7 linked regions of the Homo sapiens genome follow. The protein of the gene in region 4 purifies or fractionates together with the protein of the main gene of each other region. This does not show direct contact. Each region holds a gene or a part of one and is shown on either strand. Other genes may lie near its edges.

Region 1 (4,101 bases), on a different chromosome or scaffold from region 4:
TAATTATTTCTATTTCGTCTCTCCTTATTTCTTATATTCTGGCCAGTTCTAATTTTATACTTTATATATTTTTAAATCACTAGGCATCTTGATCATACTCCTGCAGTTTTAAAGTGTGTGTCAGACTTTCCTTGGCTGGTGTAAGTTCCTGTACCAATTGCTCATTTTTAGCCTGCCTTTCTTAGTGTGGTGTTTCCTTGGGTAATTTGGAACCTGGCCTTTCTAGCTTATTTCAAGGTGAGGATATTGTGTCTCTGCATTTCTGCCTTTCTCTGCCATCTTGTTGTCACTGTCCTCTGTCTAGCAGTGTTTTGTAGCCTCTGCTCCCATCCCGGGTCCCAGGCTTCTGCTCTGCAGTGATGCAGAGCATGTCACAGATAAAGTCATCCTTTCCAAGGACGGCTTGTCTCAGCTTCTGCCCTTGAGGCTGTGTTGATGTCCTCTTGCCTTCCTATGCCCACAGTGCTCCACTAAGTTATACGAAGTTACAGCCCTGGGATGTGTCAAGGAGGGTTTCTCAGCCTTCTTTCTGGAGTCAGGGAAGCCCCTCCCATCACTCCCAGGAGCCGGACCTAGGCCCTCTCTGCCTGCCTTGGGACTTGGAGCTGACAGGCCCCTGCCTCTGCCCCATCACCAGCCTGTGCTTCTCCTCCATTCCTTGTTTTATGTGAGTGTGTGTGCGTTTGTGCATGTATATATGTACACACATGCATACACACACACACACCTGTCTTGGTCTTCTGTCTGTCTGACCTATTGCTGCTCTGTGTGTGGAGCAGAGAGGGTCGTTACTGCACACCTTGCTCAGGACAGTGGACACCGTCTTTAAATGCACACGGGATCGTGTTCACACAGGAGGGTCCCTTTTTTTCCATGATGAATCTGAGGCCAAGTAACCTGCCCAGAGATGCAGGAAGCTCAGCTGAGCCCCAAGCCCACGGCCCTCGGACTCCAACCCCAAACCCCCTTGACAGTGTGCACGTCAGCAAGTGTGGGATGGCTGGGGGGCATCTGTTACGGCTGCACACGTCCCCAGGAGGCCTGCACACCCTTCACTCCCTTCAGTTTCCCTTCAGGTGAAATCTGCAAATCTGCTCCTCTGGACCTGGTCCTGTCCAAGTGATCCTCTGGGATTAACAAGCTGTTATTCACCAGCCTCCAACAATAATGGCAGGTTATCTGCTCCATTGCAGAACTGGCAGTGGTTTACATCCAGGAAGGGATTGGTCAGTCTCCTGTGCCAGGTCCCTGGGGGACCCTGAGCCCAGCGGTATAAAGGGCGGCTGTGGGAGGACTGGTACAGCCTCTCCCAGCCCCAGCAAGCGACCTGTCAGGCGGCCGTGGACTCAGACTCCGGAGATGAAGCCCCTGCTCCTGGCCGTCAGCCTTGGCCTCATTGCTGCCCTGCAGGCCCACCACCTCCTGGCCTCAGACGAGGAGATTCAGGATGTGAGGCCCGGATGGGAAGGCTGGGCTGGAGGGGGCAAGGGGCGAGGCTGAGACTGGATGGAGACCCCATGCCTCCTCCATCCAAGGAGACCCTCGTTTTTGGGTTGGGCATTCAAGCCCTGCCCTGAGGGAATGGTGGGATGGGGCAGCAGGGGTCTGGGCTGGCAGGGTAGGTGGCGCAGGGGTGCAGAGTGGGCAGGGCTGGGAGGGTGGGGGTCTGGCTGACTTCACTTCTTCCCTGGGGATGAGGGCTCCTGTGGTCCTGGCTGGCTTGTGGGGGCTGGAGCCACCTTCAAGTGGGCCTGGCGAGGGTGCTGGGTGTTTTCTGGGTGGGTTAGATTGGGGAACGTTCCCCGTTTCCAGCCCTCGGGGTGCGGTAGAGTCTAGGGGCTGCAGGCCAGGGAAGGGGGAGGCTCTGGAGCAGTCGGCCTGAGCCTGATAGAGAGGGGCCTTCTCCAGGTGTCAGGGACGTGGTATCTGAAGGCCATGACGGTGGACAGGGAGTTCCCTGAGATGAATCTGGAATCGGTGACACCCATGACCCTCACGACCCTGGAAGGGGGCAACCTGGAAGCCAAGGTCACCATGCTGTGAGTGTCTGCCAGCCGGCCGGGCAGCCTGCAACCTGGTCTAGGGCCTTCCCTTTCCCCACCCAGGAGAGCTCTGGTGCTGGGGAGGTGGGCAGACCTGCTGGGAGGCCTCTCTCGGCCCCTCCTGCAATGCTTGAGGGCAAACTGTGCCACTGAGGTGCCTCGGCTGGAGGGGCCCTGAGGGGGCAGAGGCCCCGGATCAGACCCTGTGGGCTACCAGTGGCAGCCCTGGGTACCGCCCACTTCCTCCTCCGACTAGGGAATGTCTGGTGACGTGCAGGCCCCTTTGGGAAAAGGTGTTTACCCCCGACCAGAGTCAGAGCCAGTCCTGGCAGTAAATTTCTGCTTTGGAGAAGTGCAGGGATGGGGCTTGCAGAATGACCAAGAGGGGGCATAGGAGAAGACACCATGGAGAAGACCCCCTTGAAATCCCTGTGTAGCGCTCACCTGTGCGGCTCTCACCTGGGCTGCTTCCACCCGCGTGGCTCACATCTGTGACTTCCCACCTGTGTGATTTCACCCGCATGGCTCCCTCCTGAGTGGCATGCAGTGCCTGTGCTCCGGTCCTGGGGGCTGAATCTCAGGAAGTCACTGACCCTGGCAATGACCCCGATTTTTTTTTCCCCCAAAGCCCCTCACTGAACCTTTCCCTCTCTGGGCCAGATGATGATGGATATGGGGCTTGTGCCTGAATGTCTCTAAAAGGAAGAATGCAGCTGGCGGGATGAGGCTCAGGCCCACGCCACAGACGCTGCCTGCAAACCAGGCAGCCTGGGTGCCTCTGGCAGGAAATGTGTTGGGGGCGGGGGGTTTGGGAAGGCAGCCACCAGGAGGAGCGGTGCAGAGCTCCTGGCCATCTCGGGAGACCCCGGGAACTGCCGCATGGGACCCGGAGGGGCCGCTGGTGCCTGGGTCTGAGATGCAGAGAAGCACCCTCCTCCATGGGCCTGTGGCAGACTCGGGGCCACATTTGCAGGGCATTGCAGCATGGTTGCTCCAGGGCCGGGGGAGGCACAGGCCAGGGCCGCTTTGCCAGGGGGCTTCTGTTTTCCAGGATAAGTGGCCGGTGCCAGGAGGTGAAGGCCGTCCTGGAGAAAACTGACGAGCCGGGAAAATACACGGCCGGTGAGTCCCGGGGCCTGAGCCAGAGCCTGAGCTTGAACACACGCTGGATGTGCGGGGGCAGCCAGTGCCTTTTTGGGGTGGCCTTTTGGCCTGGGAAGCCTTTTGCTGCCTTCTGACTCCACTAAAAGCCCACTCTCTTCTCCCACTGGTCAATTTGCATTAGAGACTTGAACACCTGACCCCAAACACCAGGTGTGGCAGGTTTGTCCCGGGGCGGACCCTCTGGGCTTGCCCTGTAGCCCTGGCTGTGGCTCTGGCAGGGCCAGGAGCAGAGTCGTATTTGGCTGCGGGGGGCTGTACCCCAACTCCCACCTCCGCAGACCTCATACCCGGAGGAACCCCCCGTGACTCACTGGTTTGGGATGTGGCCGCCTCTTGGGTACATCAGGTTCCTGGGAAGTGGGGGTCCCATGGCCTGGGGCTCAGGCCTGGTGGGGAACCTGGGTCAGGGAGCTCTGGGAGGCTGGGAGGGTGCAGGAGCTGCGGGGCTTGCTGGGCCTGGCAACGCACGCTGTCCCGGGATCCTCTCTGAAGTCCCTGGTGGCTAATTCAGGAATGTGCTGCTGTCTTTCTGCAGACGGGGGCAAGCACGTGGCATACATCATCAGGTCGCACGTGAAGGACCACTACATCTTTTACTGTGAGGGCGAGCTGCACGGGAAGCCGGTCCGAGGGGTGAAGCTCGTGGGTGGGTCCCGCACCCTCACCCTGCAACCCATGCCTCCACCTGCCCTCCCTCCTCCCTCGGCCTCCTGCACCCTCTTCCCCATGGGAGAAGCCACTGGGACCCAGGAACCCACTGCAGTTTTCTTAGGATGAGTTTTCCTGATAAAGGCCTCAATTCCCACCCCTGGAGTTCAGGATTTGGGATGCCCCGGCCTCGGTATCTGCAGCAGAGGCAGGAAGGAGCCACGGCTGCAGGCACAGGGGTTCAAAG
Region 2 (2,527 bases), on a different chromosome or scaffold from region 4:
TGGTGAAACCTCGTCTCTACTAAAAATACAAAAATTAGCCAGGCATGGTAGCAGGCACCTGTAATCCTAGCTACTCGGGAAGCTGAGGCAGGAGAATCGACTGAACTCAGGAGGAGAAGGTTGCAGTGAGCCGAGGTCACGCCACTGCATTCCAGCCTGGACAACAGAACAAGACTCTGTCTCAAAAAAAAAGCAAAGTCATGAGGTGGGCACAGTGGTGTGCATGCACTGGTAATCCCAGCTACTCAGGAAACTAAGGCAGGAGGATCACTTGAGCCCAGGAGTTCAAGGCCAGCTTGGGCAACTTAGCAAGGCCCTTTCTCTTAATAGAAAGAAAAAGCTAAAACACATCAAAAGTATACTGCTTTGGTTCAAATTCAGATAATACATCAAATTTGCCTTGTTTTAAAATAATTAATAACTTGACTAATATAAGTGAGTGACACAGGCTAAATAATATTGATTTAATTATTTCTGATTAGCATTCATTTTTGTTTAGAGATTCTGCATATTTAATATGACAGCCTATTCTGCATTCATGAGCTCAACTGGGTAATATATCATTGCTGAAATTCTACAGCCTCTTTGTTATAGAAATATTTTCATTACTTTTACCATTTTGCCTTATTATTAGCTGTTTCCTATCTGCCATAGTCAACTGTTTTCAATTAAGTGCTGTAAATCTAGAACAGCAAACAAAAAGCCAGCCAATACTTTGTGCCTGCCCTCAGCTTACTAAAGTTGCTATTTTATTTCCAAGAAGAAAAATCTTTCTTGATCTCAACCCACCAAAAACAAACAAATCTTGCAATTACTTGAAACACTGTATACCTTGCATTTTACCATCTGTAGAGAAATTGCTTCTGCCTTGCAGAGTATATCTTCCACATCAATTTTCATGGACAATTCATTGATATGCTAAAAAGTATCAACAAAATAAAATGATATCGAAACTGAATACACTATTATATTCTATTATATAAACAATTTATTACCAGTTATATTTCACTGCAGATAAAATCCTTAAAATAAAAACATTCATATACTACAAATACGTAAGAAATTCAATATATCTTTCTTTAGATTATTTCAAGTTTTAAAGCTAAAGACTAGCTAATAAGCTTATGGAACATTAAATCCAGCAGCTATTCCAAGTCTGATATCTCAAAGTTATAATCAAAAGACAATTAATTTTTGAAAAACTAAACTACATAAAAGAGCACTTGTTGAATTTCCTTTTCTTCCTAATTAGCCAGGTAAAAATAACTGGCCAATATGTATTTGAACTGTCATTCTCAGATAGTCATTCCTAGCACTGTTATTGACACAATTTAAGTTACTCAAGAGATTTAATAATGTTCCAAGGAAACGTTCTGTATATCAGGACCACCAAATAGAAAAGCCAGAACACTAAAATCTGAATTAAAGGAATAACTACCTTAAGTATTTCATTGAAGCCATAATGCTTTTCCATTATTTGCTGCTTTTCTGATTCCAGAATAGCACAACAGAGAAGAAGATGGAAATTTGTACATGGTAGTTCGGTCCACATTACCTATAGAAGGCAGAAGAACTATTTTGCAAATTGTATCAATTCTAAAACATTTTCCTCACAGATACAATTCTGAACACTGAATGACTTCTATGCAAAGTAGATGTTGCCTGTTTAGGGTAGCCCAAGGTTTTTCTAGCTAGGAAATGAGGGGAAGGAGAGTCTTACCTTCAGCTACAAAGTAACTATCATCGAGTTTATATGAATATGATATATTCTAAATGTGGCTCTTTAAGGTAACTATAGTAAGTAAATTACTGAGCCTAACCAGTATGATAAATGTTATTAATGCAGGAGCTACAGACACAAGGTTAAGGTGTAAGGGTTAGATGTATTTTCAATATTTTTCTGAAGTATCAGTTTCTCACTTCGATCTGAGAAAAGACTAAAGCTAAGTCCTGGAAATAAAAAAAGGTTCAGTTACACAGTACATGGAATCAGAAACACCCAGAGGTAGCTCTACATTCTAAATACGTAAAACCCTTGTATCACATTTTATCCCTGATTGTGACAATAACTGAATTAACTGCCCCAAATTTATAACCAAACATAGAAAACGCTTGATCAACAGCTCAGCTGTTCCTAAATACAGATAATATCCTCGAATTTAGGGTCTTAATTTCCCCCTGCTTCATGTACCTAATAATATATTTTCCACAAAGATAAAAACACCCACACAAACCATACCATGAGATCATACCCGAAATGTGTTTACTTCTTTCAAAAGGAGTAAATCAAGTTGAATAATTTTCAAACTAAACCCAATTGTTGAAAGTTTAATTACAATGCAATTAACCTCAAAGGTTTCATTAAAAGTTTGAATTTATTTAGTAAACACAGATTGAGGAGTTATTCTAGCTATGTGGTAATAATATTCTTAATTCATCCTTTAAAACCCATTTATGCCTGAGGATGCAATTTTTTGAATTTTTCAATCAGACCTTGGTGATGACCTTGAGCAGTAGGATATAAACA
Region 3 (3,500 bases), on a different chromosome or scaffold from region 4:
CTGGGGCAAGGACTGAAGCAGATAAAAGACGGAGAGATAAAACATCTAACATCTGGAGCTGCAGAAAAGCCCAGAGACTGCTCACGCTGCAGACATAAATCAGTGAAAATCCACCCCCGAGATGCAGGAGAAATCCTCCACCAGCAGGAATGGTTTGGGTTTGTTTAAAGTGAAAATGTCGTCTCTGATTTCAAAAGCCAAGGAATGAGGCAGAATGCGGCCCCAATCCCTCTTGATGACTGTAACATCTGAAATCATCTCAGTGGCATCCATGGGGCCCTGGACTTGAAAAACTAAGAACAATAAGTGAAAGATGAGTCCCGGGTGACCCGGGTCCTCTGTGACCAGGGGCCCTACAGCCTGGACTTGAAAACCTAAGAACAAGAAGTGAAAGGTTCCGTGTCACCCAGGACCCTACAGCCATTACCTTGACTTAGAGACTACAGGTCTGAGGGTTCTTCCCTTTCGCCCCTTCCGGCACCTCCCCACCTCTTTATTTATTTTATTATTTTTTTTGAGACTGAGTCTCGTTCTGTCACCCAGGCTGGAATGCAATGGCGCCATCTCGGCTCACTGCAACCTCCGCCTCCCAGGTTCAAGCGATTCTCCCTGCCTCAGCCTCCCAAGTAGCTGGGATTACAGGCGCCCGCCACCACGCCCAGCTAATTTTTGTATTTTTAGTAGAGACAGGGTTTCCCCATGTTGGCCAGGCTAGTCTCGAACTCCTGACCTCAGGTGATCCGCCTGCCTCGGCCTCCCAAAGTGCTGGGATTACAGGCGTGAGCCACCGTGCCCAGCTCACACCTCTTTTATTTTTTAAGAGAGTGGGGGCAAAGCTCAGAGAGAGGAGGGAACAGGCCGAAAACTACACAGCAAGCTTGGCCCAGGCGGAGTCCTGCCTTCTTCCAGGTTAATTCTGTTACAGCACAAGAAACCGTGGCCTAAGTGTAAGAGGCTACTGGACAGCCACAAAGTCTCCTGAACCCTGTAACTGAACCACACAGAAATGCAGGGCGAGGACACAGAACGGGGGGGCACACAGCTGAGAGCGCTCTTGAAGCTGCTCTTGGGGTCACATGCCCCTTTGCTGAGTAAGTGTCTATGATTTGACAGAGCATAGCCAGCTATTAGCCAGCGATGGCCCCCAGCTGCTCGCCCATACATCGTCAGCTCCAGATGGAGAGGGCACTGGCCAGGAGGTGGAAGGCCAGGCTCTCCCTCCTCCACGTGTCGGCTGTGCGATCTTCAGCATCAGACCCTCACCCAAGAAGTGGGAGCAAGGCCAGCCACCCATGCTGCCCCGGGCAGCTGAAGGGACAAGGGCAGATGGTGAGGGCAGACATTTATGGGGCCAGGTGCTCTACCCAACCCTTGACACCCAATCTCGCACTCCATCCTCCCAGCACCTGATGAAGTAGGACTGCAACTATCCCCACTTCCCAGATGAGGGGACCAAGGTACACATTAGGACCCGGATGGGAGCACAGATTTGTCCGATCCCAGACTCCAAGCACTCAGCGTCACTCCAGGACAGCGGCTTTCAGATAAGGTCACAAACATGAATGGCTCCGACAACCGGAGTTAGTCCGTGCTGAGTTAAGGCAATGGTGACACGGATGCACGTGTTACCTGTAATGGTTCATCGTAAGTGTCAATTGGGCTGGGGTATGGTACTCAAATATTTAGTCAAACACTAGCCTGGATGTTGCTGTGAAGCTATATTTTAGAGATTAATATTGGCCAGGCACGATGGCTCACACCTGTAATCCTAGCACTTTGGGAAGCTGAGGCAGGTGGATTACCTGAGGTCAGGAGTTCCAGATCAGCCTGGCCAACATGGTGAAACCCCATCCCTACTAAAAATACAAAAATTAGCCAGGTGTGGTAGTGTACACCTGTAATCCCAGCTACTCGGGAGGCTGAGGCACAAGAATCACTTGAACCCGGGAGGCGGAGGTTGCCGTGAGCCAAGATCACACCACTGCACTGCACTCCAGCCTGGGTGACAGAGAGAGATTCTGTCTCAAAAAAAAAAAGAGATTAACATGTAAGTCTGTTGATGCTGAGAAAAGCAGATCATCTTCATACCATGGGTGGGCCTCACTCAATCAGCAGAAGGCCTTCAGAGAAAAAAGACTGGCCTCCCCGGGAAAGGCGGCGTTCTGCCAGCACACTGCCTTTGAACTCCAGCTGCAATGCCCCTCCTTCCCTGGGGCTCCAGCCTGAAGGCCTGCCCTGCAGATTTTGGACTTGCCAGCCCCACGATCACATGAGCCAAGTCCTTAAAATCTCTCTCTCTCCACTCTCGCTCTATATACACATCCCGGAGAACCTTAATACACTGCTCATTAGGGAAGGAAGGGGGAAAGTTACCCGTTTCTTGGAGGCCCCCGACATCCAAATCTCCGGTCTCCTGGCTCTTGACACAGCATGCCTGGAAGACCTGTCCACACTGGTAGCCAACCATGAGGCTGTACTCGCAGCTCTGGCCCTGGGCCTGGGCCGCCCTCCCCAGCAGACAGCAATGGCAGCACCTCTGCAAACACAGGTGGAGATCCCAGATGGAGGAGCGGGCAGACAGCCCAGCGGGGTCCACGAGAGGCCTCAGGGGAGGCCTCTCTGAGCCCCCTGTCCACACAACCTGTAGAGTGATGACTCAAGTCTGGCTTAGATACCACTTCTAAATGTCAGCAACAAATAGCAAAGCAAGGCCATCCCCCTACTCCAAATCATCTAGGTCCCAGTTTTGAAAGGAAGCTTAAAGGGCCTGGCATCCACCTCCCCTCCCCACCCCAACATGCAATTGCACCCCTCAACATCCCTGCCCCGCCCAGAGACCACCCGGCTCTGCTCGCACACATCCAGGAAGAGGGAGCTTCTTATAGCACCATGCACCAGCTCCAAAGTTCTGTTCCTTTTGCATGGTCTGAGATTTCTCTACCATGCCCGGAAAAATGACACACATGCATGCTGCCTCTCCGTTTTTGAGTTAGAGGGGTTCTGGCAGCAGGAATTGCACCGTGCATTTGAAAGCACAGGAACTTCAAGACGAGTCATCAAGCAAGGTCAAAGGACAGGGTGGCTGTCTGCCACCTGGGCCCAGGTCCCAATAGTTACTTCCAAGTCCCTGTGGCCTCACACCTGAGTCCCAGAAGCAACATTTGCCCTGACACACGAAAAGCCCTGCTTCAGTCTTTATTAAGTGGTTATCCTAAGAGGAGCACAGAACTTTCTAAACAGTCCCCAGCAGGAGCCAGGAGGTGTAGCTTTGCCTCAGTTATGTGGCACTGATGGGTCTTCCAGGCTGCTTATTCTACGCCCTCCGCTGCCAGAAAGTGTAGGGAGCATCAGTCACCTCATCCATCTTTTGGGGTGTGAGTAATCCTTCCTGGAAACACAAGTCGCTCATCTGCCAGAGAGATCTGTTCCCACTCCTGCTAGAATGTTCTGTGCTTTTTCCACACCTCTCAAGTCTGGGGACATGGGCACAGCTGTGTGCC
Region 4 (3,500 bases):
CATGGTTCATGGGGTCCCAAAACAATTATAATAGTAACATCAAAGATCACTGATCATAGATCACCATAACAGATTGTTATGAAAAAGTCTGAAATATTGTGAGAATTACCAAAATTTGACAAAGAGACAAACTGAGAAGTTGCTGTTCTGCAAAATGGCACTGATAGACTCCTTGATACAAGGATGCCACAAACCCTCAATTTGTTTAAAAAAATGGAGTATCTGTGAATCACAGTATAGCAAAGCACAGTAAAACAAGGCATGCATGTACATAATGAGGTATCTTGAGAATGGGACCCAAGTAAACATGAAATTCATGTTCCATTATGTTTTAAACATATAGCCTGAAGATAATTTTATACAATATTTTTGATAATGTTGTGTATGAAACGTTTACGTACGTTGAACCATCAGAAAGCAAAGGTATCAGTATCTCAATCACCCATGTGGACAATCTGTGGTTATTTGACGTCACCATCATTCCTGACTCTAAATTCATTATGCTACTGATAAGTAATCATTTTCTTACATTACTCACAAATAAGTGCTTAACAGTAAAAAATAGGATGTATCATTAGTACAGTGAAAAGAGAATGCGTTCAGGGTAACTAAGCAGCACAGTAGTATCTCCAGAATGCCTGTGTCGGAAAGCCACCAATAAGCAATGGCAGGCTTTCATTCTTTACCTACAATGCTGTATTTTGATTACAAGGTTATCATTCACTGAATTTTATTATTTTAAGTGAGAAGAAATATCAGAAGTAGCCAAGTGACCAGCAAGTGTTTTCTCTACAAATGAGGAAGCATTCTGATGGATGACTTTTCAGAATGTTTCCTCTGGAGTCCGCTGTCTCATTAACAATGGTTTTTGTCTTAGAAGTCTCTGTTGATTTTACAGACTGACACAATTTCTTATTCTGTGATGAATGAATGCTCTTAGAGTCCTTCAGTAAACCCATCACATATTTTCACCATGTCATCTATAGGCACTTTGCAGTTTTAACAGTGTCCTCATCATCTTTCACTTGTGACATCATGTTGGTGCTGAAAGTTTTGGATTTTTGAGCATTTCAGATTTTGGACTTTTGGATTAGGGTTGCTTAGTCTATACAGCATTTTATGTGCCCGAACTCTGCATGAATATTATAATCTTTTCTTAAAGTTAGAGATTGGTTCATCCTTTTTGTTCATTTCTTTGTTTTCAAGAATAAATGACAACACAGTTTTTGTTTTGCTTTCTATTTTTTTGTTTTTCAAGAGTTTTGGAGCATAGTCAGGATCATGATGATAAGAAAGAGATGTATATATGTAACAAACCTGCATGTTGTGCACATGTACCCTAAAACTTAAAGTATAATAAAAAAAAAGATGTATACAGTTGGTAGAGCATATTGTTAGCAGGAGTTTGAGAAGAGGGGTTTCAGTCAATTGAGAGATCCCCATGGAAGAAGCAGGATGAAATACAGATAACAGAACTAATTCTTACAAATTTTTTTTCTGAAAATGGTCCAAGTGTCAATTAGGAACTTTCCAGGTTTGATTTGAAACCCCCACCACAGAATTTGTTTTTCCTCCCTGAGAGATTGATGGGTTACTGTTTTGGGATTAAAGCCTTTGGGGGCTTTCTCTGGTGGAGAAATAGTTCAGACAAAAGGTAGTGGATCCATTAGATGGCTAATATAAAAGTGGACAATGTATTTTCCAGTTGCATGAGTGTTTACCATAAAGGCAGACATCTTGGGGCATAGGGTTCTTTATTTTGGGATCCTCTTGGGCCCTGTAGCCTTTACAACTGTAAAGACATAAACCTGTTTGCCTTTCGTAAGGAATTTTCCCACTGTAGCCATTCTAAGTTACTTTTGCTAAGGTTCTCCCATTCGTCTCGAAAAGCACAGGTTCTGGGTCTCTGGTTTTTATACATGAAGTTGGCTAGAATTCCAGAGGGCGAAGCTCTAGCAACCTTTGACCAGATAAACCCATGATTCTATGTCTTTTATTAACCTTTCCTACCTACTAACTGAGTTGAGTTTATGTCTGACCCAGTCAAATACCTGAGGCCTCCCTACTGGGCCCAGTCCTGTTGTTGGCATGACTTTGAAACCCAGTGTAGATCAAAAATGCTCAAACTCAGCTCAAATCAGAAGTTCATGAAGCTTAGATTCAAAAATCTCACCCATGACCCCAGTTGCTGCGAAAGAGCAGTGAGTACACTGGGCATGCTGGGTACCTTAACTTGGTCACTCAGTGCTCCTGGGATCACTGGAAGTTTGCTTCAAGATCTGACTTCTCATGTGAAACTCTTAAAAGAAAAACTTTAGGCAAATTCAGCAGAGTTTATCTGAGCGAAAAACGATTCATGAATCAGGCAGCCCTCAGAACCAGAAGAGTTTCAGAGAGCTCCACCGAGCAACATGGGCAGGCAGTATTCATAAACAGAGGAAAGAAGTGACGTACATAAATCAGTTGATTGGATCCAGCCTGGTATTTGCTTTATTTGGTCATGGTGTGATGAGGCATTTGCCTTCAACGGACATGGTCTGATCAGTTGACAGCCCGTGATTGGCTGAAGCTCCACTACCATCATTGGCTGAGACTCAGCTACTTGTTACAAGAATACAACCTCAAATCAAGTTGCAGTCTGCTATTTACAGAGGCAGCTTTAGGCCCAATTTAATTTATCAGGTTATGATTTAGATTACGTAGAAATGTGTTGTTTTATTTTTATGTGGTTAGAGAATTTCCTGTTATCTTGCGGTTAGTAATTCCTAGCTCATTACATTATGGTCGGAGAACAAGCTGTATTATTTTAATTTTTTTGTAATATTTTAAGATTTGTTTTATGAGCCAGAATGTGGTCTGTCTGGGTGAATGTTCCGTACGTTGAAAATAATGGTTATTCTAATGCTGTTGGGTGGGTGTCCTACAAATGTCAGTGTTGGTTGATGATGCTGTCTAGTTGTGCCAATATCATTGCTGATTTTTCCTCTGCTTGTTCTTGTAGATTACTAAGAATGGAGTGTAAAAGTCCTCAACTGTAACTGTGGATTTCTCTTTATTTTTTTCAATTTTGCCAGTTTTTCCTTCATGTATTTTGAAGCTCCATTGTTAGGATCAGTCATGCTTAGGATTGCTGTATCTTGTTAAGAAATTGTCTCTTACTTTTAAGTGATAGCCCTTCTTATCTCTGGTAATTTTCTTTGCTCTGAAATCTACTTGTGAGATATTAGTATAACCACTCCAGCTTTCTTTTTCTCTGTAATGACTTTGTTGAGACATAATTCACATACCATAAAATTCACCCATTCAAAGTGTACAGTTGAGTGATTTTTAGTATATTCAGAGTTGTGAAGCTATCACCACAATCTAATGTTAGAATAATTTCATAATTCCAAAAAGAAACCCATGCCCAATAACAGTCATTTCCCATCTTCTTGAAGCCACAAATCTACTTTATGCCTTTATAAACTTGCCTATTCTGGATAGTTCACATCAGTAGAATC
Region 5 (2,683 bases), on a different chromosome or scaffold from region 4:
CCTGGGTAACAAACAATGTGAACTCAAATCTTTAAACAAAAAAAAAAAAAAAAAAAAAGGAGAGAGAGAGAGAGAACGAAAGAAAGAGAGAAAGGGAAAGAGAAAGGGAAAAGGAAGAGGAGATTGGGCCTTCCTAGAAAAAGGAATATTTTGCCTTCCAATGAATCACCAGAAAAAAGTAGAGCTTTAATCTTTGACCTTGAATCACAATAGTATCATAACAAAAGAACAAATCTTGATGAAGTAATTTTACTTTCCTAAAGAAAACTGTCATTAGTAAACCTTCAATTACTCACAATTCCTAGTCTTGAGCTCCCAGTAACTCAAGCTTGTGAAGGATTAGGTTCTAATGCAATGGGAGCCTACCACCAAATATATTTATAAAATAAGCAGTGCAATTCAAAACTTCCTCTACAAATGTATAATCTTTGCTTATAAAACCCACATTGATGATCCCAAAGCTTTAATAAAAAACAATAAAGAAAGAAAAGGAAAACCACTTATTGGTACTAAAGCCTTTACTGTAATAAACCAAATATATTTACAATTTATACAAATGTTTAACCTTCAACAAAAATACAAAAAAACATTTCACAAGATGCAAAACCAGGAAACAAGTTCATTGGAGACACCACTGCTCTACAAAGGACGGAAAGTGAGGTGAACTGCAAGGAACAGAAAGGTAATCTCACACTTGGGCAAGGCGTGATCCCCAGATCACCCAGAAAGAAAGAATGGGCTGTCATGTGAGTCGGCAGATTCCGTTCCTCAATCCTACAACCCATGGCCCCTCTGTCCGCTTGGCCTTGGTGCTCCATTTGGTCTATGTAGACAGGTGACTTTCTGCTGATGGACTTGTCGCCTCCTCTTTGTAGACTCAAAGTAGTTTTCTGTCAAGGTTTGGAAACAGGTGTTTGTAATTTTTTTTCTCTTTTAAAGTTACAACTTTTCTATTTCTATAAATTCGAAACATTTTGGCCCAATTCAACTATAAACGTTAAACCACATAATGTTTTCAGTAGATGACTTCATAGACTGTAGCCTTCTTGTCCCCCGAGCCAGTGACTATGTACTTATCATCCACAGAGATGTCACAGCTAAGCACTGACGAGGACTCTTTGGACTGGAAGAGAAAACAATGGACATGTGTTTAATGTGGAACAACGGTACTCAGAGGCCCTGCTCCCTCGGAGGCACCTTCACTCCTGGCTTCAGAGGCGACACTGTGGTCAAACTGTGGATCTAGGTGAGGAGTACTTACTCACCTGGAATATGCTGGCTCCATAGGGGGTCCGCCAAGCATTGAGGAGGTTATCTTTTCCAGTACTCACAAACCATTTACCTAGAATTAGCAAAGGAATATCTAGTTTTCACAAGGTTAAAATTCCTACTATACAATTAGCAACTTGGACTTAATCAAACTAAGAACATTTTTAATATATGAACTATCATGCCCTAAGGACTGGTCCATGATATGAACAGAGGTTTTAATCTGGGCTCCTCAGTGATTTATCAGTGATCTTGGGTATAATCTAAGAGGTATCAGCCTCCTTAGTCACTGGATACAGGACTAGTAGCATCATATCCAACACACGGTAACCCTCAAATATAGAAATCAATGAAGAATGTGTTCTATTTTAGTCAGTCTCCTCATGATAAAATGGGATTAAAGATTCCCATCTTTAATGGGAATTAAAGGATTAAACATCCAACTTAAGTAAAATGCCAGTCACATCATATAGCATGAAGAAAAATGCTCAATAAGTGATAGGCACTCATCCACCCATCCATCCATCCATCCATCCATCCATCCATCCATCTATGCATACTGTGAACAGATATCTGCCCATCTGCAGCACACAAGAAGGGTCACCACATGAACTTCTTCCCTCTTCATCCTCACTGTAGAGTAGAGTGTAACTAAGTGTCTGCGTATACCTAAATATCGACTTCTCTAACCCTGGATTCCTCATCATGGCCAGCTCATAATGACTTCCACTGCCCCTGCTCCATTCTTCAATAAATTCCCGCCCACCCCTCTTCAGAGTAGAAACTCATTGTCGTCTCCCAACCCCTCCAAAACAAACTTGTGTCCAAACCGTGTATTAGGCAATCACATTGCCTGCTGACTTTTCTCAAATTAGCAAAACAGACTGAAACAGACATTGCTGTGCTCTGAAGGGCATATTAAAACAATAGAATTATTGCATCCAGCTGCTCGGAGAACATTTTTTCCAGATTATGATCTCTACCATATTTTTTTAAGAAGCATTTTCCATTTGGGCCATCAACGGCCTCCAGTTTCCTTTCGGCTGAACTCACCACAGTAAGCAAATTTCAGGGACAGCACGCAGCTCTCATGCAGGTGCAGCTGGTACTTGTCAGGCTTGTTCACGTGCAGCACCTCCACATTGCTGCTCTCCATGCCCACTGCCAGCCACTCCCCGGTGGGGCAGTACCCCAGGGAGAAGATCTACAAGGAGCAAGACAGGCTCACTCATTATTCCGCCTGATACACTTAGGAAGGGAAGACGCAATGTGAAAAGTGGGGAAATAGCAAGAATGGGGGGAAGTAATCAGCCAAGTCCAGACTGTGGGGAGGTCCACAGGGCAAGTGATCTAACGCAGATGAACCAAGTGTCAAAACCTTTAGGAAACTGGAAACATTTGAACCCCTCTGTCT
Region 6 (2,751 bases), about 18 Mb from region 4:
TTAAAGATTTACCAGGCCTCATAACATCACCGGGAGATATCTAATCTATCAAGAAGAGGCTGACGCTTGTTGCAGTTTGAAGATCTTGGTAGAGTTGGAGGGGAGGCAGGCTGGCGGCGGGGATGCTGTAACACGGTGGACCAGGATCCTGCAGGCGTACCAGCACTGAGTGATAAGGGGCAGCCAGGATAATGATGTTGTGTGTTGTGGAGCTGAGATAACTGCAGGACTTCGAGCCGCATATAATACAGGAATTTTTCACTTTGGCAGCTTCGTAAACAAGATATCAAGAAGCCCTTGTTGAAATTAAAGCCATAAAAGCACACCCAGTGTAGAGGCACAGGAGCTGGGAAAGACTGAGTCCCAGCTTCAGCCTTCCAGGAGGGAGGAGAGCCAGAGGTTTACTGAGGTGGCCACATCAAGCCTCGCCTGTCAGCTCTCCAGGCTGGGACCCTGCGGGCAGGAGCTGCAGGGGGAGCCCAGTCTCTGATGATCGCGGTTGGGCTTGGGGGACAGCACATTGGCTGCCCACAGATGGGAAAGGCCTTGGAAAGCCCCAGCAGGACAGAGCGGCTGCGATGAGCCAGGTGAGGGTGAAATGCTTGGCCAGCAAACACCCTGGGGAGGCAGCCCCTCCACCCGCGGCCACCACTGCTGCAAGGTGTTGTCTGCAGTCTTCCCTTTTCTCAAGACAGGCTCAGAACTCAGATCCTTGTACGAAACGTCCTGATTTTGGCAGGACACAATGGCTCACGCCTGTAATCCCAGCACTTTGGGAGGCGGAGGCAGGTGGATCACCTGAGGTCTGGAGTTTAAGACCAGCCTGACCAACATGGCGAAACCCCATCTCTACTAAAAAGACAAAAATTAGGTGGGTGTGGTGGCACATGCCTGTAATCCCAGCTACTCAGGAGGCTGAGGCAGGAGAATTGCTTGAACCCGGGAGGCGGAGGTTGCAGTGAGCTGAGATTGGGCCGTTGCACTCCAGCCTGGGCAACAAGAGAGAAACTCCATCTCAAAAAAAGAAAGAAAGAAAGAAATGTCCTGATGTCTAGATGTCAGCAACTTGTTCAAACATTTCACAAACACTGCATAGGCCACATGAAACGTATCTGCTGGGCTCATGGGTGAACTGCCAGGGTGTGAGCTCCACTGAAACAATCTTAGCTTATGCAGGAGGGGCTTCACTGTCTGAAATCCAAAGCTAAATGCAGCTGGGCAAAAAGGGGCCCTCTGAAGTTACTGGATGGTACAAGGACAACCAAGAAAAGGAGCTGGGAGGGACTCACAACAGAACTCCCCCCTGAACACAGCTTCAAGGTAAAAACGGCTTCTCACTCACAGCTGGGACTGAGGAAACCACCAGGTCTTGCCAAGAAAAATGTCCCCAGATGACCTTCTGAAACTCCAGGGAGATGTAAATATTGAATCCTGGAGCCTGGTCATAGGAGACAGCTTAAGCTAAGTGCCTCGCCTTCAGTGAGATGCACTGAATCTGTGGCTCAGCTTCCAGAATGTCAGGGACACTCTGCTCTCTCTCTCTCACTAGAGAGAGCAGCAGGTCAGAGCAATCGTGAAAGCGTCTGTCTCAGGCTGCTCGAAAATGGACAGTTCATAAATGAGATCTTTAATCATTTAATAACCTGCAGGGATAGTTTATGAGGGTGTCGGCTTGGATTGCAGAGTACACAAGTTACATTGAGTTTGTTTAAAAACCTAGCCCCAGGCTCCAGTAAAAATGCTGAGGTTATCGCCTGGGCCAGCGGGAACAAAGCCACGAGTCCTGAGAGAAAGCCTGAGGAGAGGCCCTCCTGACAGAGCCAAGACAGCCCCAGCCCAGAGTTGGCCTGGCAAGTCACTGTCCTAGAAGCACAGTACAGAACATTCCAGACTGTTTGGGCCAGGAGCTCTGGGTTCGAATGGCGGCAGCAAGGGTGAACTAGCTCTGAGTGGCAGTCCTGGCTCTGCTGCTTACTCTCCACATAGCCACAGGACCCTCGTTCTTGGAGCCTCCAACACTGGCTATTGCGAAGCTGTTGTATGTTGTACGTAGAGGACCCTAGAGGGTACCTATGAAGCACACAAAGCTATGAATACAGTAATAACAACAGCAATGGGAAGGATGGGAGGGCCCGTTATTGCCAATACCTCACAAATCCTAATGACAATCTTGCAAAGGAGGGAGGAGATGTTCCATTTAACAGAGAAGGTGAAGGCTCGGTGAGATGCACCAAATTGCTCAAGTCATTCAGTAGGCAAATGGTGTCTCTGGCCCTGAACACATCTGTGCTGGGCTGCCTTTTTTGGCAGGACACATGGGGTTTTGGACCCAACAGTAAGGTGCTATGTCCCGCAGTAAGAATGGGCCAGTTTTCCAAGAATTGCCTGGGACTGTTTCTGCTTCTGCCTCCGTTCAGTGAATGCCTTGGCTTCAACCTGGCAGTCACCCTTGCAAGTCACCTGGCAAGACACCCTTACGTGGCGATGAGGCCCCCGGCCATTGACACCATCTCCTAGGTAACATATACAATTGCTACTATGAACCATAACTGCTTCAGTAATTTGCCAATGCTGGTTACAAAGGGAGATCTGTGACTCTCCTGATGCATCCCCACAGCACTCCTGCATGCGGTAAGAGATGCTGGCAGGCCCAGGCTGGGCCTCCAGCCACAGGAGAGCAGCAGAAGTGCCAGGAAAGGCCCAGGAGAGGCCCTGACTGCTCCAAAGGAAAGGTCCTGCTCACAAACTGCC
Region 7 (3,500 bases), on a different chromosome or scaffold from region 4:
GGAGTCTTGGAACAGCCCTGTCAGGAAAACCTGCTTTAATTAGAAACAGACCCTCGCCTATGTCCTATTTGCTTTCAGTCTAACTCCAGGTCCAAATACAAAAGAATCTATAACTACCTTTATATGTAGTTGCAATATGGCTAAAAAACATAGAAAAATTCAGTGTGAATTACTGCTGCAGAGAAAATGATAAATCACGTGGTCTCTTTTCAAGAACAGAGGTTAATACAGGACTGCAATAAGACTACTCCTGGTTTGATCAGAAATATGTTACAATTAAATGAAAATCCACAGGATGAAAAATCATGTGAGAAACAGCATCGATGTTTCTTCCCAACAGTCCACAACCCTGTGTGCAACCAGTGGCTGTTTTTCACACAACCGTTCCACGACGTGCACCGTTCCACGACGTGTGTGGTGTGTGGACCAGGGGCTGTTTTTCATACGACCATTCCACGATGTGTGCAGTGTGTGTGGACGATGCTGTTGCGTGCAGGACCCACTGCGCACCACACACCAGCAGGGAAGGATGCTGGGTGAGCTGCACCCCAGGGTAAGGGCTCCGCAGAGGAGTGGCTCCCAGGCCATTCCTCTCCGGTGGGGAGGTAGCTCCCCATGTATCAACACCTTTTCTAGCACTAAAGGCTGAGCCCTGCCACTACTACACTTCCAAGTTTTCTCTCCCTCCATCAGTGTGACGTAGCAACATATGCACGACCAGCAGGGCACAGTCATCTGGAAAAGCCCCCAGCTACACCCACACTAGGACTCAGACACCTCACCACACACAGGCTCCGCAAGGAACTCAGGGAATCCTCACAAGACTAAAACACGTGCATGGATGGGAGGCGAGGGAATGAGCCCCAGGCCGCTCTGGGAAACCTCGAGACACAATGCCATGGTCCCTGTGAGGCAGAACTGAACCTGGGATTCCATATTAAAGAGGTCTGAAGGGGGCTGCACCTCCCAGCAAAGGGAACCTTCCAGAAATCAAGTCGGGTAGGGATGGAAACATGACTCTCCTGAACACCTGCCTCCCAGGCCTGCCTGCCCCTGGAGCTGCAGCTCCCACCTGGCTACGGGGGATGGAGACACAGCACGACTCTCCTGAACACCTGCCTGCGCCTGGAGCCTCAGCTCACACCCCGGCTACCGTCTGGGCATGGGGGTGCACACCTGTAATCCCCACTTTTTGGGAGGCTGAGGCAGGAGGATTGCGTGAGCCCAGGAATTCCAGACCAGGCCTGGGCAGCACAGGGACACCCTGTCTCTTAAAAGAAACAAACAAAAACCCAGCTGCCTATACAGCTGGGGAGACCCTGGACCCAAAGAAATGATGCAGACCCTCACATTAAGGCTACACATGAACCCACAAAACAAACAAAAATTACAGAAGCATCAAGGAAGTTGGTCACTCTGTGTGGGCTTGAGCAGGAAAAATATCTGGCTGTAGACCACCCTCCCAAGGACTTCAAACACAGTCAAGGAGCTCCATGTCACAAATATCTAGCGCTTTTCAAAAAAGCATGTTCTTAAAACTGAAGACTATCATATGAAATATTTGAATAAAGAATGGAATCACAAAAATAAATAAGCAATGTCTATCAAAAACACCCAGATAAGATGTGAAAGTAACTAATAATTTAGAAATTTTAAATATATGTCATCTTTAGAATTAGAAACTGAAAGGACAGGTTACACCGTACATTAAAAATAAACAGAATCAAGAATAGAGCAAACATACACGGAGAGATGTGAAAAGGTACAGAGACGGAGGGAGAGGGATGAAAGGGCCGACGCTCATCTAAGTGGAATTCCAGAAGGGAGCAAAGTGATACGGACCCACAGACAAAGGAAACACAAGCGGGTACCCAAGCGGGTCGGATACAAAGCAGCCCAGGTTGGTCCGTCTGCCGATACTTACATATGATCGACCTGACAGTCACTGGATTAAAGGGAGTCCACGTGCCTGAAAACAAACAACAACAGGAGTTAAAGTAAAAGGAAAATCTTTCTGGGACACTGAGTTTGTGATCTATACCTGGAGGCACCAGGAAAAGCAGTGGGGGCTCTAAGGTAGTGGTTTTCTAGACACTCCAGGTGACGTGTCGGCTGCCATGACTCCTGGGAGGGGGCCAAAGCACTGCCTGGTGGGTTCACACCCTGCTGTGTGTGGGAGTCCTTCGTGGCCTCCCAGACCTCCAAGGCCGTCCACAGTCATCGCGGCTGGACATGCACTCTTATTTAACAGATAACCAAGAAATGGTTCTGTATCATTTTACACACAGAATTTTTCAAGGATGCAGTCACCAGCTAAGTTGAGAAGTTCGCACTTAGTTTTGTTAGAGGACTTCACGAATTCCCATTTCAGAAAATCCATCATCAAGGCCACCACTGCCTGCAGACACCTGAACATAGCTTGGTCGCTGTGGCATTCACACTAATTCTACTGAAAGGTGCAAGTACCAGACCCCTTCCTTCCGTTCTCCCTCAGTAATCATCCTAAAGCACGGTGAAGACATCCATCACACCACACTTCAAACATTCCTGACAAATTACGGTCTGGGCTTTATATGATTTTCCTTGAAACTGAATAGGAAAGCTGTACTATCCTCAGACTCATCGTTGAATCTGATACCCTTGAGCGCTCACAACCATTTATCAACTCTGAGAATGAAGATTCACTGATGACCTTCGCACACAAGAACCTATCTTCAGAGTGATTTGTACCTTCAGTAATTTCCATACTCACTAAAAATGAACTAAAAAAATATTTTTAAGGTCAGGAGAGACCAGTGGCTCTCCTCATACCCCGTCTGTGTTAGACACACAGTTTTTTTTTTTTTTTATGCACAAAAATGCCACAGTCCTGGGCAGTACACAGAGACAGCCCCCTGATCTCAGAGAACAATGTCAGGCTCCTGGTGGAGCACGGGCGGTGGGGTCTGCTGGCATGGTCCCTTAGGCCTCTACGTGCCACCACTCTGGGCTCATGGGGCTCCTCCTAGTGCCATGCCCGCTCTCACCTGAAGTGCGTCCCCTCCTAAGACACACACACCCTCCCTCCAGCTCCTTCCTTTCCTTCCTCAGGGAGACTTCCACGGGGGTACCACATTCTCCCAGCCCAGAAGTTAAATCCATTTGCTCCGCCTGAGCACCTCCCAACTTCCCCTTGGGAAGATCCCGCCCTCCAGCAGTTATGCAGGGAAGCTGTGCTCTTCCCACAAAGGCAGGTGCACCTGAACCTGAGGCATACACACAGAGCAGCACTCAATGATCCGCCCTCCAGCAGTTATGCAGGGAAGCTGTGCTCTCCCCACAAAGGCAGGTGCACCTGAACCTGTGGCCCACACACACAGCACTCGATGACCCACCCTCCAGCAGTTATGCAGGGAAGCTGTGCTCTCCCCACAAAGGCAGGTGCACCTGAACCCGTGGCCCACACACACAGCAGCACTCGATGACCCACCCTCCAGCAGTTATGCGGGGAAGCTGTGCTC

What was found.
Region 1: the proteins of PLSCR4 (region 4) and LCN1 purify together in Homo sapiens (affinity purification with mass spectrometry; one large-scale study listed by BioGRID and IntAct). This does not show direct contact.
Region 2: the proteins of PLSCR4 (region 4) and TBC1D15 purify together in Homo sapiens (affinity purification with mass spectrometry; one large-scale study listed by BioGRID and IntAct). This does not show direct contact.
Region 3: the proteins of PLSCR4 (region 4) and FBLN1 purify together in Homo sapiens (affinity purification with mass spectrometry; 3 studies listed by BioGRID and IntAct, with this or other methods). This does not show direct contact.
Region 5: the proteins of PLSCR4 (region 4) and TLE1 purify together in Homo sapiens (affinity purification with mass spectrometry, with the first as the bait; one large-scale study listed by BioGRID). This does not show direct contact.
Region 6: the proteins of PLSCR4 (region 4) and RUVBL1 purify together in Homo sapiens (co-immunoprecipitation; one large-scale study listed by IntAct). This does not show direct contact.
Region 7: the proteins of PLSCR4 (region 4) and PDCD6 purify together in Homo sapiens (pull-down; one study listed by IntAct). This does not show direct contact.

What each region holds. Positions count from the first base shown.
Region 1 is NC_000009.12:135,520,139-135,524,239, forward strand, and holds the start of LCN1 (lipocalin-1 isoform 1 precursor), read left to right. Parts: upstream 1-1,301; 5' UTR 1,302-1,359; coding exon 1,360-1,449; intron 1,450-1,908; coding exon 1,909-2,039; intron 2,040-3,093; coding exon 3,094-3,164; intron 3,165-3,741; coding exon 3,742-3,852; exon of another isoform or gene 3,853-4,101. UniProt on the Homo sapiens protein: Could play a role in taste reception. Could be necessary for the concentration and delivery of sapid molecules in the gustatory system.
Region 2 is NC_000012.12:71,919,759-71,922,285, reverse strand, and holds part of TBC1D15 (TBC1 domain family member 15), read right to left. Parts: intron 1,574-2,527; exon of another isoform or gene 1,556-1,573; coding exon 1,439-1,555; intron 919-1,438; coding exon 832-918; intron 1-831. UniProt on the Homo sapiens protein: Acts as a GTPase activating protein for RAB7A. Does not act on RAB4, RAB5 or RAB6.
Region 3 is NC_000022.11:45,526,883-45,530,382, reverse strand, and holds part of FBLN1 (fibulin-1 isoform D precursor), read right to left. Parts: intron 2,537-3,500; coding exon 2,374-2,536; intron 1-2,373. UniProt on the Homo sapiens protein: Incorporated into fibronectin-containing matrix fibers. May play a role in cell adhesion and migration along protein fibers within the extracellular matrix (ECM).
Region 4 is NC_000003.12:146,241,106-146,244,605, reverse strand, and holds part of PLSCR4 (phospholipid scramblase 4), read left to right. Parts: intron 1-3,500. UniProt on the Homo sapiens protein: Catalyzes metal ion-induced ATP-independent rapid bidirectional and non-specific movement of phospholipids (lipid scrambling or lipid flip-flop) between the inner and outer leaflet of the plasma membrane and participates in the redistribution of phospholipids between membrane leaflets.
Region 5 is NC_000009.12:81,583,183-81,585,865, forward strand, and holds the end of TLE1 (transducin-like enhancer protein 1), read right to left. Parts: intron 2,474-2,683; coding exon 2,323-2,473; intron 1,343-2,322; coding exon 1,266-1,342; intron 1,124-1,265; coding exon 1,016-1,123; 3' UTR 501-1,015; downstream 1-500. UniProt on the Homo sapiens protein: Transcriptional corepressor that binds to a number of transcription factors. Inhibits NF-kappa-B-regulated gene expression. Inhibits the transcriptional activation mediated by FOXA2, and by CTNNB1 and TCF family members in Wnt signaling.
Region 6 is NC_000003.12:128,083,062-128,085,812, forward strand, and holds part of RUVBL1 (ruvB-like 1), read right to left. Parts: intron 1-2,751. UniProt on the Homo sapiens protein: Possesses single-stranded DNA-stimulated ATPase and ATP-dependent DNA helicase (3' to 5') activity; hexamerization is thought to be critical for ATP hydrolysis and adjacent subunits in the ring-like structure contribute to the ATPase activity.
Region 7 is NC_000005.10:302,646-306,145, reverse strand, and holds part of PDCD6 (programmed cell death protein 6), read right to left. Parts: intron 1,970-3,500; coding exon 1,925-1,969; intron 1-1,924. UniProt on the Homo sapiens protein: Calcium sensor that plays a key role in processes such as endoplasmic reticulum (ER)-Golgi vesicular transport, endosomal biogenesis or membrane repair.